2 linked regions of the Homo sapiens genome follow. The protein of the gene in region 2 purifies or fractionates together with the protein of the main gene of each other region. This does not show direct contact. Each region holds a gene or a part of one and is shown on either strand. Other genes may lie near its edges.

Region 1 (3,749 bases), on a different chromosome or scaffold from region 2:
GAAAAAGAAAGAAAGATAAAACTTCCAATTAACTTTTGTGTAATAATGAGTGACTGCAATATGAAAATTCAGCAGTATTACTTCTTGAGGCGGCTTCCTGGAGGAGGCTGGTCTCAAGCTGGGCGGTGGAAGGGGGTGTCTCATAACAAGAGAGAACTGTGAACCAAGCTGGCTGTATTTCCAGCACTGTCAGTAGATGAGGCTCTTTTGAGCAGAAGGTGAAAGAAAATTTGGAAGAGTTGGTTGGAGTTGTGTAGCCAAGCAGTCTCATCAGGCTGAATGAAATGTTAGGACTTTTTTTGAAGATGAGGGGAGCCATTGAATGCTTTTGAGCTGAGAAGGAGATAGAAAATTTGATCCTGCAATAGAAGATCTACAATATGGATTGGAGTGGGTATATTTTGGCATCATAGAGCCTTAGAATAAAGAGAAAAATCTTTTCACTGTGTCTTCCCTCCTGTTTGCCCCTTTTTCTGCAGGGGATGTGGTCCTGTCTGGCTGTAGCACCCTGAGCCTGCTGACTCCCACACTGCAACAGCTGAACCACGTATTTGAGCTGCACCTGGGGCCATGGGGCCCTGGCCAGACAGGCTTTGTGGCTCTGCCCTCCCATCCTGCCGACTCCCCTGTTATTCTTCAGCTTCAGTTTCTCTTCGATGTGCTGCAGAAAACACTTTCACTCAAGGTTCTGGGTGTGGGGAAGAGGCAGGATGTGCAAGGAGCCCAAGAGAATGATGGAAGTTGGGGATAGGGTAGGGGTGCAGAAGTCTGCAGTGCCAGGATCCAGAGGGTGTCAGAGGTACCAGTGGTTGTGCTAAGGAAGGAATGTTGAGGGCAGGAAGATCTGCTGTGCCTCAGTAAATTGAGTTTTTTTTTTTTTTTCAGCTGGTCCATGTTGCTGGTCCTGGCCCCACAGGGCCCATCAAGATTTTCCCCTTCAAATCCCTTCGGCACCTGGAGGTATGGGGACACGGGGGGATGTTGGTGCACAGCACCCAACTTGAGGCAGCCCCTTGGGGATGGGAAAGAGAAGAGCCTCTTTGGTGAGGAGGCCAGGCCTGAGTATACCCATTGCTCTGCAGTCATGTGATATCCACTGTCTTTCCATTTACTGCTTCCCTAAATCATAGCTGGGCTTTGTGGTCTTCTCCCTCCTCCCAACTAGGGGATGGGGATGAGGTCTTTGTCTTCTGTGGGGTTCTGCCTTCCTCCCTCCTCTTTCCTTGTCCCAGCTCCGAGGTGTTCCCCTCCACTGTCTGCATGGCCTCCGAGGCATCTACTCCCAGCTGGAGACCCTGATTTGCAGCAGGAGCCTCCAGGCATTAGAGGTAAGGAGAGTGAGGGGTGAGCTCAGACACCTCAACTTGAGAGATGTAGAAGACCAAGCTCTGATGTTCTCCCCTCTCTGCAGCTCTCCCTGCCTCCTGCTTCCCTCTAGACAGTGTCCTCACTCCCTCTCTGTGTTCCCGCAGCACTCTGTAACTGCCTGTATATTTATAGTCGTACCTACCATATTATATTACATATTCTAGTGTCTACCTTCCCACTGTCCCTACAGTGAGTTCTTGGGTCAGGGACCTGGGCTTTAAGCCTGTATCTTCAGATGGAGTTCAGTGTATAAAAAATGAATGAGTGACTGGGTGGTAGAGCTTGGCCTTGGCATAGGGAGGAAGGGGAGGGTGGGGTAATGAAGCACCCATCTGTCTGCTCAGGAGCTCCTCTCAGCCTGCGGCGGCGACTTCTGCTCTGCCCTCCCTTGGCTGGCTCTGCTTTCTGCCAACTTCAGCTACAATGCACTGACCGCCTTAGACAGCTCCCTGGTGAGTGCCTCAGAGGGAAGAGGGTTTCGAGGAAGGGCAAGGCCAGGCCTTTGGGGAGGAGGGCCAGCTGGTTGACCAGATAGTATTGTAGTGAACATCGATTCTCTGCCTCCTCCCCGTCTCTCTCAGCGCCTCTTGTCAGCTCTGCGTTTCTTGAACCTAAGCCACAATCAAGTCCAGGACTGTCAGGGATTCCTGATGGTGAGTATGGGCAGTTTGGCAGCTGGCACACCATGGGTCTTTGATTGCTCTGCTCTCACTCTCTCTCCTTGACCAGCTTTTACTCCCACCTTGCTCTTGCCATGAGGGTGGAGCTGCATTCTGGGAGATAGCACTGCTTAGACACTAGCATCAGACAAACCAGAGTTCATATCTCAACTTCTAATACCTGTGCAACTTTGAGCAAGTTAGTTACCTCTTGGTTTCTTTACCTGTAAAGTAGAAATCACAAGAGTACCTGGTTTTTTTTTTTTTTTTTTTTTTTGAGATGGAGTCTCGCTCTGTCACCCAGGCTGGAGTGCAGTGGCGCAATCTCAGCTCACTGCAACCTCTGCCTCCCAGGTTCAAGCAATTCTCCTGCTTCAGCCTCCCAAGTAGCTGGGATTACAGGCACGTGTCAACACACCTGGCTAATTTTTGTATTTTTAGTAGAGATGGGGTTTCACCATGTTGGTCAGGCTGGTCTTGAACTGCTGACCTCAAGCAATTCACCTGCCTTGGCCTCCCAAAATGCTGGGATTACAGGCATGAGCCACCACGCCCGGCTGAATACCTGCTTTTATAGTATTAAAATGATTGTGAAGAAGTACCCAATGTTGCTTAGTCTAGTGCCTAGCTCAGAAACTGGTAGCTTTTGTGATTATGATGAAGAACCTTTCTTCTGGGTCCTCCCATCCACCTGTCAGAGATAAAGCCGAACTAGTTAAAGTGGTAAGGACAGATTTTTTTTTTCTTTTTTTTTTTGAGGCAGAGTCTTGCTCTGTCACCCAGGCTAGAGTGCAGTGGTGTGATCTTGGCTCACTGCAAACTCAACCTCCTGGGTTCAAGCAGTTCTCCTGCCTCAGTCTCCCGAGTAGCTGGGATTACAGGTGCCCGCCACCATGCCCAGCTAATTTTTGTATTTTTTAGTAGAGATGGGGTTTCACCATCTTAGCCAGGCTGGTCTTGAACTCCTGACCTCATGATCCGCCCACCTCAGCCTCCCAAAATGCTGGGATTACAGGTGTGAGCCACCGTGCCCGACCAAGTAAGGACAGATTTTTTATCAGTGATAAACTATTGCAGCGGGGAAGAGGGTGCAACCTGAACTGAACGCCACTTCAATTTGTGCAGAGGTGGCTGGGCATTTTAAAAGGAGAGTGAGGGAATAGGAAGGGGAACTGTGAGGGCTTGAGCAGAGTAAGGGAAGTGGAAATGTACGAAAAGCAGAAGTGGAGGTTGATTCACATGAAGCCCTTCTGGGTTTGCTAAAAGTTAGGCTCCTACCTTCCCACAGAGACTGGGAGATGGGAGCCCTGTCATCAGGTGTTGGCTAGAACAAATGGGAAATTCTTTTGGCAGCCTTGACTTTTCCCAGGCAGGAGCTTAAGGGGGCTAGAGTCACCATTCTAGGGATGCATCCTTGAGATATTAGAACTTTGCTGTTTTTGTTCAGGTTTTTTACTGTGGGGGTTGGAGGAGTCAACAAAAATAATTTGTGTTGAATTTTGTTGAACTTGTGCTGAACAAGTCTGCAGTTCTTAACAGGCCAAAGTTGAGGCCTAGTCAAAAAGAAGGCCCAGAGGAGCCTGAGTAGGGTTTGATCAAGGTGAGAACCTCCTCTAATTCAGGGAAAGAAGAGACACTCCTCTTTCCCCTGAACAATATAAATCCTTTTCTTCCTTGATCACCTTTTGTTCACTAAAAACCAACTGAGCCATTTATTGGGAC
Region 2 (3,749 bases):
GTATCTATCAACATTTAAAATGTAGGGCACATGTTCTTAGGACATCCTGAGTGCTGTGTCATGGGCAAAAAAAAAAAAAAAAAAGTACGTACACTTTTACTTATATCTTCAAATAATTCATTGTGGATATATTTGCACACATGTAAAGATATTGTTGATAATAGCCATGTTGTCTGTCATATCAAGAGACTACAAACTACCTGGCTACTTGGCATCCAGAAGACACTGTGTGTCCCATTCATATAAGGAAATGCTATGCAACTGTTAAGAATGGGGTGGATAGGTATACAGTATATTAACATAGAATAGCCTTCATGATTACATTGTCGAGTGAAAAAAAATCAAGTTTTCAACCTTGTGTACAGAATGTTCCTATCTGCAGTTTTTAAAAGGGAGTTGAGAGGGCTGTTGTGGACCTGTTTTCCTGTATATAATAGAATATTTCTAGAAGCATTCACAGACCTAGTTGCCTCTGAAATGAGGACTGAGGGTCTTGGTGGAAGAGACACTAATATAATTTACTGTTTACTTTTGAATACTACTTGATTTTTTAACCATGTGCTTGTATTACTTTTTCAGTTACAAAAAAGATGCAGAAAAGTCTACATATGTTGACACAGGAATTTATCAATTTACTTATACCTAGGGAATAATGTTTAGCAGACAAATCAAGTTGCAGTGGAATAATATGTACAATTTTTGTATGATGACAAAATTACAACTATCTGGAGTTTATAAAAACACATGTGCAAAAGGTCTTATCGCAGGCCTCACTGGTGGTGACTCCACTGCCAGTCTGTTTAATCAGTTCCTCCCTTTCGACGATTGCAGTTGGAAGCACTAGGGGTTATAGTTGTTCTCTGCTGCAATGTGAAAAATCAAGAGGGCTCATTCTCACCACTCCTTGAGTATTTACGAGGACTGTGAATGGAGTTGATTGACTTGCTCAGCCTCTGCTCAGCCTCCTACTGATAGGTTTGCCTGTCTGCAGGGACCGTATCCCTCAGCACATTTCCTGGCTTCCCCTGCAGCTGGGATTCCTCTCCAGTGAAGTGCACTGTGGGAGACTTGAGTTCAGAACTGAATCACTGGGGAGAGAGGTGGTATCCCCTTTCCTTGAGGGAACTAGTAGCTGTGGTATGGCTCCACCATGGCTTCCTGATCCCCAGATCCCAGCTGAAGCGCTTTCTTCTTGGTACCACCATGTGCAGGGGTGGCCTTGTGGTTTCCAGATGGTGACCTCTTTTTCTTCTTTCCTTTTACTTTTTGTGTAACATACTCTGTACCAGCCTGGGTGCCATAGCAAGAACCTGTCTCTATAAAAACTTCTTAAAATTGGCCAGGCATGGTGGCACAGGCCTGTAGTTCCAGCTACTCCAGAGACTGAGGTAGGAGGATCGCTTGAGCCCAGGAGGTTGAGGCTGCAGTGAGCAGAGATGGCACCACTGCACTCCAGCCTGGGCAACAGGGCAAGACCGTATCTCACACAGAAAACAAAAATACATTTAAACAAAACAAAACGAAAATACATTTAAAAACTCATTTATAAAAATAGGACAGGGGAAGCTGTAGGTATAAGAATGTATGCTGGGAAGCCGGGTGCGGTGGCTCACACCTGTAATTCCAGCACTTTGGGAGGCTGAGGTGGGTGGATCATGAGGTCAGGAGATCGATATCATCCTGGCTAACATGGTGAAACCCCGTCTCTACTAAAAATGCAAAAAGTTAGCCAGGCGTGGTGGCGGGTGCCTGTAGTCCCAGCTACTCGGGAGGCTGAGGCAGGAGAATGGCGTGAACCCGGGAGGTGGAGCTTGCAGTAAGCCGAGATTGCGCCACTGCACTCCAGCCTGGGCGACAGAGTGAGACTCTGTCTCAGAAAAAAAAAAAAAAAAAAAAAGAATGTATGCTGGGATGGTAGTTATTGCTTCCTAATTACAAATATTGAATATTAATCTTTCTGCTCTCCTTTCCCCCAGCTCGTGTTTGTTGTTTTAGCATTTTTAACAGGTGTGCTTTGTTCTTATCCTAATCCAAATGAGGACAAGTGCCCAGGAAATTACACAAACCCATTGAAAGTTCAGACGGTTATAATCCTTGGGAAAGTTATTTTGTGGATTCTCCATTTACTCCTTGAATGCTACATCCAGTATCACCACAGCAAAATCAGAAACCGAGGCTATAACTTGATCTACCGATCAACAAGGCATCTCAAGAGACTTGCGTTGATGATACAGTCCTCTGGTATGTCCAATTTTCTCTCAGCTACTTGGGTGCTTGAGGGACAAAAATGACAGCAGAAAGAATATATGAAGTTTGATTTTAGAATCAAATATATTCTCTCATTTTTGTAAGGTTGATGTGTGTTCTGACCACTAAAATTTGGATCACCTTAATGTCTTAAAGCTTTTCTTGGCCGGGTGCGGTGGCTCACGCCTATAATCCCAGCACTTTGGAATGCTGAGGTGGGCAGATCACGAGGTCAGGAGATCGAGACCATCCTGGCCAACATGGTGAAACCCCGTCTCTACTAAAAATACAAAAATTAGCTGGGCGTGGTGGTGCATGCCTGTAATCCCAGCTACTCAGGAGGCTGAGGCAGGAGAATTGCTTGAACCAGGGAGTCAGAGGTTGCAGTGAGCTGAGACTGTGCCACTGCACTCCAGCCTGGCAACACAGCGAGACTCCATCTCAAAAAAAAAAAAAAAAGAACTTTTATTATGAAATATATAGCCTTAATTTTCATTTGAAATCTGTTATTTGTTATGAACATGGTGTCCTCATAGCATGTGTGAAGTGTGGAATTATACCCTCTTTTGTTACCAGGTGGTTTACTCATCTCATAAAGATAGAAATGCTGTTGCTATTTGACATTTCTGAGGATAGGGAGAGGGAATTTTTAAATTTTATTTTATTTTCTCTGAGGCAGGGCCTTGCTCTGTCACCCAAGACTGAAAGGCAGTGGGGCCTTCATGGCTCACTGTAGCCTGGAATTCCTGGGCTTAAGCAATCCTCCCACCTCAGCCTCCTGAGTAGCTGAGACTACAGGTGCATGCCACCACACCCGGCTAATTTTTTTAAACATTTTATGTAGAAGCAGGTTCTCACCATGTTGCCCAGGTTGGTCACTGGAACTCCTGGCCTCAAACAACCCTCCTGCCTCAGGCTCCCAAAGCTCTAGGATTACAGGTGTGAGCCAGTCCTGGTGGGAACTTTTTAAAAATGAAGCTCAGTGCTTTTCTTGCAGTAGGAGACAGTAATGGTTAGTTCCTAGGATAGAGGACTGTTAGGCAGTGAGATGCATTATATCAAACAGAAAACTTGGAAAACACACAGGTCCTAATTTATGAAGGCAAGATCAGAAGGTCCACATGAGACTTAGAATGCATGAGTACTTGCTTTTCTTTATCGTTGCAGACATTTTAAAGATTTAATGGAATTAAATTGAACTTCTTTAGGTAAATTTGGCATTAAGTTATAGTAAATGGCCGGGCACAGTAGCTCATGCCTGTAATCCCAGCACTTTGGGAGGCTGAGGTGGGCAGATCCCTTGAGGTCAGGAGTTTGAGACCAGCCTGGGCAACATGGAGAAACCCCTCTCTACTAAAAACACAAAAATTAGCCAAGTGTGGTGGTGTGCCCCTGTGGTCCCAGCTACTCTGGAAGCTGAGGTGGGAGAATTGCTTGAGCCGAGATCATGCCACTGCACTCCAGACTCCAGCCTGGGTGACAGAGTGAGACCCCATCTCAAA

What was found. The genes of interacting proteins can lie anywhere in the genome.
Region 1: the proteins of TMEM192 (region 2) and STK11IP purify together in Homo sapiens (affinity purification with mass spectrometry; 2 studies listed by BioGRID and IntAct, with this or other methods). This does not show direct contact.

Annotation. Positions count from the first base shown.
Region 1 is NC_000002.12:219,600,756-219,604,504, forward strand, and holds part of STK11IP (serine/threonine-protein kinase 11-interacting protein), read left to right. Parts: intron 1-479; coding exon 480-685; intron 686-885; coding exon 886-960; intron 961-1,232; coding exon 1,233-1,328; intron 1,329-1,712; coding exon 1,713-1,820; intron 1,821-1,949; coding exon 1,950-2,021; intron 2,022-3,749. UniProt on the Homo sapiens protein: May regulate STK11/LKB1 function by controlling its subcellular localization.
Region 2 is NC_000004.12:165,099,120-165,102,868, reverse strand, and holds part of TMEM192 (transmembrane protein 192), read left to right. Parts: intron 1-1,976; coding exon 1,977-2,241; intron 2,242-3,749.